Homo sapiens: one gene and its partner. The protein of the gene in region 1 binds, or shares a complex with, the protein of each later gene. Each region holds a gene or a part of one and is shown in the gene's direction. Other genes may lie near its edges. The genes, in order: TIMP1 and MMP3.

What was found.
Region 2: the proteins of TIMP1 (region 1) and MMP3 are in contact, whole or in part, in a crystal structure (PDB 1UEA), measured with the Homo sapiens proteins. Residues at the interface, in NP_003245.1 of Homo sapiens: Cys24 (codon at 3,007), Thr25 (codon at 3,010), Cys26 (codon at 3,013), Val27 (codon at 3,016), Pro28 (codon at 3,019), Pro29 (codon at 3,022), Val52, Thr56, Leu57, Tyr58, Pro87, Ala88, Met89, Glu90, Ser91, Val92, Cys93, Thr121, Cys122, Leu156, Ser157, Pro159, Gln173, Leu174, Gly177, Glu179; in NP_002413.1 of Homo sapiens: Phe100 (codon at 2,989), Thr102 (codon at 2,995), Phe103 (codon at 2,998), Phe171 (codon at 3,445), Tyr172 (codon at 3,448), Gly178 (codon at 3,466), Asn179 (codon at 3,469), Val180 (codon at 3,472), Leu181 (codon at 3,475), Ala182 (codon at 3,478), His183 (codon at 3,481), Ala184 (codon at 3,484), Tyr185 (codon at 3,487), Ala186 (codon at 3,490), Thr207 (codon at 3,553), Thr208 (codon at 3,556), Gly209, Thr210, Val215, His218, Glu219, His222, Phe227, His228, Tyr237, Pro238, Leu239, Tyr240, His241, Ser242.

The regions. Positions count from the first base shown.
Region 1 is NC_000023.11:47,580,479-47,584,394, forward strand, and holds the start of TIMP1 (metalloproteinase inhibitor 1 precursor), read left to right. Parts: upstream 1-1,957; 5' UTR 1,958-1,996; intron 1,997-2,929; 5' UTR 2,930-2,937; coding exon 2,938-3,058; intron 3,059-3,916. UniProt on the Homo sapiens protein: Metalloproteinase inhibitor that functions by forming one to one complexes with target metalloproteinases, such as collagenases, and irreversibly inactivates them by binding to their catalytic zinc cofactor.
Region 2 is NC_000011.10:102,841,797-102,845,712, reverse strand, and holds the start of MMP3 (stromelysin-1 preproprotein), read left to right. Parts: upstream 1-2,103; 5' UTR 2,104-2,166; coding exon 2,167-2,271; intron 2,272-2,796; coding exon 2,797-3,041; intron 3,042-3,133; coding exon 3,134-3,282; intron 3,283-3,433; coding exon 3,434-3,559; intron 3,560-3,916. UniProt on the Homo sapiens protein: Metalloproteinase with a rather broad substrate specificity that can degrade fibronectin, laminin, gelatins of type I, III, IV, and V; collagens III, IV, X, and IX, and cartilage proteoglycans.

The DNA.
Region 1 (3,916 bases):
AAATTAGCCAGGCGTGGTGGCGTGTGCCTGTAACCCCAGCTACTGAGGAGGCTGAGGCAGGAGAATTGCTTGAACCCAGGAGGTGGAGGTTGCAGTGAGCCAAGATCTTGCCATTGCACTCCAGCCTGGGAAACAAGATCGAAACTCTGTCTAAAAAAAAAAAAAAGATTTAGAAGGCCGGGTGTGGTGGCTCACGCCTGTAATCCCAACACTTTGGGAGGTCGAGGCAGGTGGATCACCTGAAGTCAGGAGTTCGAGATCTGACCAATATGGTGAAACCCCCGTCTCTACTAAAACTACAAAAATTAGCTGGGGGTGGTGGTGGTGTGGCTGTAATCCCAGCTACTCAGGAGGCTGAGACAGGAGAATCTCTTGAACCCCGGAGGCGGAGGTTGCAGTGAGCTGAGATCGCGCCACTGCACTCCAGCCTAGGTGACAGAGCAAGACTCTTGTCAAAAAAAAAAAATAGATTTAGAGGGTACAGCTGCAGTTTTGTGACATGGATATATTACATAGTGGTGAAGTCTGGGCTTTTAGTGTCCCCATCAACCAAATAGTGTACATTGTACCCATTAGGCAATTTCTCATCCCTCACATTCCTCCCACCCAGAATAGTGCTGGATACGCAGTAAGCACTCCATAAGGGCTGCTGGTAGTTTTTGTTGTGTTCTTGTTATTGGGCTATCATCCCTGAGTTAATCAAACTTAATTAGCAAGGGAGTATGGTGAGTGAATGAGATAATTTATACAAACACTTTAGCACATAGTACACAGAAAGTGCTCAATAAGTGGCTGCCATCATCACTACAATTATTATTATTGATCTATCCTCCTCGAATTAAGGATGTTAATCAGAACCCCAGGGAAGGTTCCTGCATTGTCAGAAAGCTGGTGGGCAAGGATTGCCCCACCCCACCCCCCACCAGGGGTACAGGTCCATGGGGAGGGGGCAGGGCAGGATGGGGTGGGGATTAGTTTTCTACTGACCCACTCACTTGCTTCTTTCACCATCATTCATGGCCACCCCCTTCCCAATGCTCATTCATTCACCCGCACCATTCCCTGCTTGCTAGGACGGTGCCACTCCTGAGTTACAACCCTGGTGCCAGGTAGCCTCTGTTTGAATCCCGGCCATGCCCTGTGATCTTAGGAAAATTCTACAGTTCCTCTACGCCCCATATTTCCTCATCCGTAAAACGGGAATAAGAACCGGTACCCATCTCAGAGATTTGTTGTGAGCTTTGAGTGAGATAAACTATGCTGAGTGCCTGGTATACAGTAGGTGCTGTATAAATGCCGGCTATTTGCCTGTGTTATTTGAGACCCTGGCTTTGGCTCCTGGCCACCTGAGTTCCAGTCTCAGTTCTGCCATGTATTGACTCTGTGATCCTGGGTAAGTCACTTAACCACTCCGTGCCTCAGTTTCCCCATTTTGTATTCCTCCCCTTTCACCTGCCTTATCTCCCTCCACTGCTGCTACTTAATTTGTTTCCTCTCTGCCACCCCTCACCAGCATGTCAGACATACAAAACAAGGGATTTTTGTGTGCTTGGCACACAGTAGATGCACAATAAATGTTGAAGGGCTGAACTAATTTGGGTTTGAGTCATAGGGAGCTTGGGGGATGTGGGTGATTGGATAGATTCTGGAGACTTTAGGGGACTGGGCCGGGGGAAATGCGGCCTCTAAGCTCTCCGCTGAGGCGGCTTGGAAGGAATAGTGACTGACGTGGAGGTGGGGGAGGTGGCTGGCCCGGGCGAGGCCCAGGGAGAGGGAGAGGAGGCGGGTGGGAGAGGAGGAGGGTGTATCTCCTTTCGTCGGCCCGCCCCTTGGCTTCTGCACTGATGGTGGGTGGATGAGTAATGCATCCAGGAAGCCTGGAGGCCTGTGGTTTCCGCACCCGCTGCCACCCCCGCCCCTAGCGTGGACATTTATCCTCTAGCGCTCAGGCCCTGCCGCCATCGCCGCAGATCCAGCGCCCAGAGAGACACCAGAGGTAAGCAGGGCCCGGGGTGGCCCAGCAGGGACCGGAGCTGGGCTGCAGCTTGGGTGCTGGCCACCAGGCCCGTGCACTCCCGTGCCAGATGCCTGTCTACTCAGCTTGGCCTGCGGGTACCAGGACCCTGGGCTAGTCTAGGGGGAAGAGGGTCGGAGGCTGGAACTGCTTTCCCAACCCCGAGGCTCCAAACTCCCTAGAACCCCTGACATCCGCCCCCAATTCCCCCAAACCCATGACCCCCTAATATCACAAATGCTTTCCAAATCCCCCCGCAAATTCCTTCATCCCGAAATTTCCCTCATCGCCCCCTAAATACCCACCGCTAACCCCTGCAGCTCCCTAAACTCCCCCAGCTCCCCAATCCCCAGTTCCCCAGCTCCCAAACTTCTTTTGCCCTCAAATTCCTCAAGTATCCCCATTGCCTTAAGCCCCCAAATTCCCCCAACCCCTTCAACCTCCAAACTCCCCCAGCTCCCTAAACCCCCAACCTCCTCCAAATTCCTCAACCTCCCTAAATTCCCCCAGCCTCTTATATCTCTTAATATACACAACCCCTAAACTCTGCCGTCTCCAAACTCCTCCAGCCCCCAATCCCAAATTCCTCACCCCCAAACTCCTCAACCTCCAGAATTCCCCAATCCCCTCATTCCTCAAACTTCCTCAGCCCCCTTCTCCCCCAAGTGCCACAACCCCATAACCCCGCAACTCACTCAGTCCCTCAATAATTTAAACTCTCCCAACTCTCTAAACCCTAAATTCCTCTGCGCTCCCCAATCCCCTTAAAATCCCTAAGCTTACCAACCCCTCAAGCCCAAATCCAGCCCCCTAATCCCCCCCATAGGCTGCCCCGGGGCAAGATGGGGTGGATGACCTGCCCAGGTCAGCAGATCAGCTGGGCCGGGGCCTGCCTGACATCCCCCTTCCCCACAGAACCCACCATGGCCCCCTTTGAGCCCCTGGCTTCTGGCATCCTGTTGTTGCTGTGGCTGATAGCCCCCAGCAGGGCCTGCACCTGTGTCCCACCCCACCCACAGACGGCCTTCTGCAATTCCGACCTCGGTGAGTCCTCACCCCACTCAGCCCACACACTCTGCCTTGGTTTCCCTTTCAGTCCAGTGGGGCTCACCATGGCACTTACCTCTAGAATGATTCCACTCGCCCCTGCACTTCCTCTGCTTTAGCCACACTGGCATCCTCACACTTCCTTGAGTACTCTGTGCCCAAGCCCACCACAGGATCTGCATGCTGGCTGCTCCCTCTGCCTGGTACACTTTCCCCCCAGGTATCCACATGGGTGGCTGCCTCAAACGTCACCTTCTCAGGATGGCCTTCCCTGGCCATCCTGTTTAAAATTTTAACCCCTGCCCCTTAGTACTCCTGATCTCCTGTTAAACAGAAAAATATTCAGTGATACTTGTTATAACACAGTAAGGAAGACCATATTCAGGACCATGGTGATGGGTATAGGAACCACTGCAATGGGATCTTGCAGTCGGTGGGAGAGATTGGGCTCAACACTGAATATAGCATGGGCCAGTGGGAATGTGTAGCTAAGGAGCAGTGTGAGGGTCTGTGGGTGGAAATTACTAAGAAGAAACATCAGGGGTAAGGGGGATTCTGGCTAAACCGACGTAACAGGATTCTTGCTGAAGGCAGGCCAAGGGGAATCAGACATCACCTGGGGGATGGTGGAAGATGAAGAACCCAGTCAGATAGCAAGGATGATCAGGTATTGAGGATGATCAGAGATTGAGGATGATCAGAGATTGAGGATGATCAGGTATTGAGGATGATCAGAGATTGAGGATGATCAGGTATTGAGGATGATCAGAGATTGAGGATGATCAGGTATTGAGGATGATCAGAGATTGAGGATGATCAGATATAGAATATAGGGGTTCTTGCTAAACTGACTTA
Region 2 (3,916 bases), on another chromosome or scaffold:
AATGAGAGAGACAGATAAACCATTTCACTACAGTTCAGTGTGGAAAATAGAGTAGCAGAGGCAGGTACAAGGTACCATTGAACAATGATTAATGACTCTTCCTGGGACTTGGGAAACATCTTTCAGGGAAGTCGTCGAAGCTGTTTTAAAATATAGCAAACTTTTGTATTTAGTTCAGGAACAGCATGGCCCATTTTGCCAATCACATCTTAACAGTTGGAAAAGCAAACATATTATCTATCAGGCTTTCCTCTAAACTTTAAATATGTTTTATAAGTTATAACTCCAGAGAAAATTTACAAAGGATAAACCTTAATATAGAAGGAATTAGAGCTGCCACAGCTTCTACACTTTTAACCTCTCAATATTTTATCTGTTGGGCTCCACTGTTTCTTCCTGGAATTCACATCACTGCCACCACTCTGTTCTCCTTGTCCTCATATCAATGTGGCCAAATATTTTCCCTGTATTTCAATCAGGACAAGACATGGTTTTTCCCCCCATCAAAGGAATGGAGAACCATAGAATACTAGTTTTAAAATGTCTTTAGGCCAGGTGCCGTGACCCATGTCTGTAATCCTAGCACTTTGAGAGGTTGAGGCAGGAGAATCACTTGAGCCCAGAGCTCGAAACCAGCCTGGGCAACATAGTGAAACCTCTGTCTCTATTTTTTAAATAAAATTTGAAAAAGTCTTTAGACATAATCTAGTCTAAAAATGAAGGCTTAAATGTGATGTATAGCCCCCTGCCAAGTGGCTATCAACTGTGTGGGCATCTTCAGTCATAGGGATCTTATTGCCACAGAGAAATCCCTTTAAACTTATTGGGTAAAATCTCTCCAATGTTTATTAAGAAACACACAAAAAATAAAGCAAAGAAGAAAATGCAAAAGAGTTATAAATGAGAGGAAGCAAAATGGGCACTTATTAAAGGTCTAATAAATGCACATTTGTATCCATCATTCTACTGAGTTCTTACTCCCAAGATGTTCTTCCCTTTAGCAAACAAATAAGCAAGTCAGCAAAGAAAGAAAGAACAAACAAAATGTGGTGATCAGGGAAGCATTGAGGAGATGGATGGTGGCAGGTGGCAAGAGGACTATAAAAGTTTTACAAAATGTCTTCCTCTGAATATGTTTAGAGTCTTGCATTCAAGCATTTATTATACACCAATAATGTGAGCAACACTTTACTTGACAAAGAAACAGAAAAGAAAGGAAAGGAAGAAAACAGAAGAGCATGAAGAGAAAATTTAGGATGGATTCTGTTCTTCAACTTCAAAGCATCTGCTAATTTGAATTTAGGGAGGAGGGGAAAAGGTTGAAAGAGAATAAGACATGTGTAGAAGACAAGGACAGAGAGAATTTCAGTCCGGTAAGCAATGTAATTCATTTCAATTCTACAACTATTTATGGAGCAGCTACGTGGGCCCATCACCCATTAATAAATTGGTTACAGAATTAAAACCAACCCAAAGGGAATATACTTCCTTCTTTTTCACAGACCCTCTTTGTTCTATTCTGCCCATGAGGTTTTCCTCCTCAAGAACCAGCAAATCCAACGACAGTCAATAGCAGGCATTACAAATCAGATTCAGAAAAATAAATCACCCCTTCTAAATTTCTTCTAGATATTATCTTTTATGTTTTGAGTATAATTGTATATAGTATAGACTATAGCTATGTATGTACACTTTCCACTTACATCTTTTATTTGCTTTTATAATGTGTTTCTTAAAATAAAACTGCTTTTAGAAGTTCTGCACAATTCTGATTTTTACCAAGTCAACCTACTTCTTCTCTCAAAAGGACAAACATAAATTGTCTAGTGAATTCCAGTCAATTTTTCCAGAAGAAAAAAAATGCTCCAGTTTTCTCCTCTACCAAGACAGGAAGCACTTCCTGGAGATTAATCACTGTGTTGCCTTGCAAAATTGGGAAGGTTGAGAGAAATTAGTAAAGTAGGTTGTATCATCCTACTTTGAATTTGGAATGTTTGGAAATGGTCCTGCTGCCATTTGGATGAAAGCAAGGATGAGTCAAGCTGCGGGTGATCCAAACAAACACTGTCACTCTTTAAAAGCTGCGCTCCCGAGGTTGGACCTACAAGGAGGCAGGCAAGACAGCAAGGCATAGAGACAACATAGAGCTAAGTAAAGCCAGTGGAAATGAAGAGTCTTCCAATCCTACTGTTGCTGTGCGTGGCAGTTTGCTCAGCCTATCCATTGGATGGAGCTGCAAGGGGTGAGGACACCAGCATGAACCTTGTTCAGGTAATTAACACTAACTGACCTGGCCAGGTGGGGAGCTTCCAGAGTAAGCTGAAACCATTCTGTGTGTCTTAAAACCCACATAGAATGCTTGAGCTTACTGTGTAGGAACAGTTCAAGAATAGAGAGTTATAGAGTGTTGGAAGTGGAAAAGGTCTCATTATCACACCATTTGGGCTTCTCCTCTTATGTAGGAAGAAACAAAGGCCAGAAATATTAGGTGTTTTCTTAAGATCACACAACACCATAGCAGTAGCAGCACTGGGGCTTAAGGCACATGAGTAACAAGTGGAGAGTGGATGAACCATATCTTGCTTTGGAACAGCTTCAGTTTTTTTTTTAATGCAACGTAATTTTAGCTAAATATTTGTGTTGCTAGTATCATATTATAAAATTTGCCATTATTTCAGCAAGCTAGAGAAATACTCCAAATAGATTAAGAAGTGAGCAACTGCAAAAACTTACTATAAATAGATAGCTATAGTAAAAATTGTAAGAGTGACCTAAAAACTATACTTATTCTGTTAGAAATATCTAGAAAACTACTACGACCTCAAAAAAGATGTGAAACAGTTTGTTAGGAGAAAGGACAGTGGTCCTGTTGTTAAAAAAATCCGAGAAATGCAGAAGTTCCTTGGATTGGAGGTGACGGGGAAGCTGGACTCCGACACTCTGGAGGTGATGCGCAAGCCCAGGTGTGGAGTTCCTGATGTTGGTCACTTCAGAACCTTTCCTGGCATCCCGAAGTGGAGGAAAACCCACCTTACATACAGGTAATGGTTCAGAGGGGTTTTCACATAAGATTGGAATTTTATAAACTATATCATAGGAGAAAATAGCATCTGCTTCAATTTTTCTCCTACAGGATTGTGAATTATACACCAGATTTGCCAAAAGATGCTGTTGATTCTGCTGTTGAGAAAGCTCTGAAAGTCTGGGAAGAGGTGACTCCACTCACATTCTCCAGGCTGTATGAAGGAGAGGCTGATATAATGATCTCTTTTGCAGTTAGAGGTAAAAAAAAAAAAAAAAAAAAAAAAGCAAAACAAAACAAAACAAAAAACACATGAAATGTATCCATTCATCTATCTGGTGTTGTTGTACTGGAAAAGGCTCAAAAGGGATCCTTGTTACATATCTTTCCAATAAATTTTTTTCCTACTAGAACATGGAGACTTTTACCCTTTTGATGGACCTGGAAATGTTTTGGCCCATGCCTATGCCCCTGGGCCAGGGATTAATGGAGATGCCCACTTTGATGATGATGAACAATGGACAAAGGATACAACAGGTTAGTTACACATCTCTCAGAATGATTTTGGCATTAATTTTTTTATATGTAGAAATCTGTTAATAACCAAGAATGCTCAAGAAATGAGATGTTCTGGATTTTCCAGTGGATCAGAGATCAGCAGAATATATTTTTGTTTTAATTATTATTGAAAATATTTTCAGATGCTTTAACAGTTTTCCTATATTGGTAAGCACAATATAGGAAATATCATTAAGTATTTCTTTAATGACTGGATCTTTGTGATCTAGGGGTAACCATTATTAAGAAAAATTTCTCATATCAAAATACAAACATTCAAGGGATAGTATATTGCACTGAATCTACATTAAAATGTGCTCTGGATGTTACTTATGT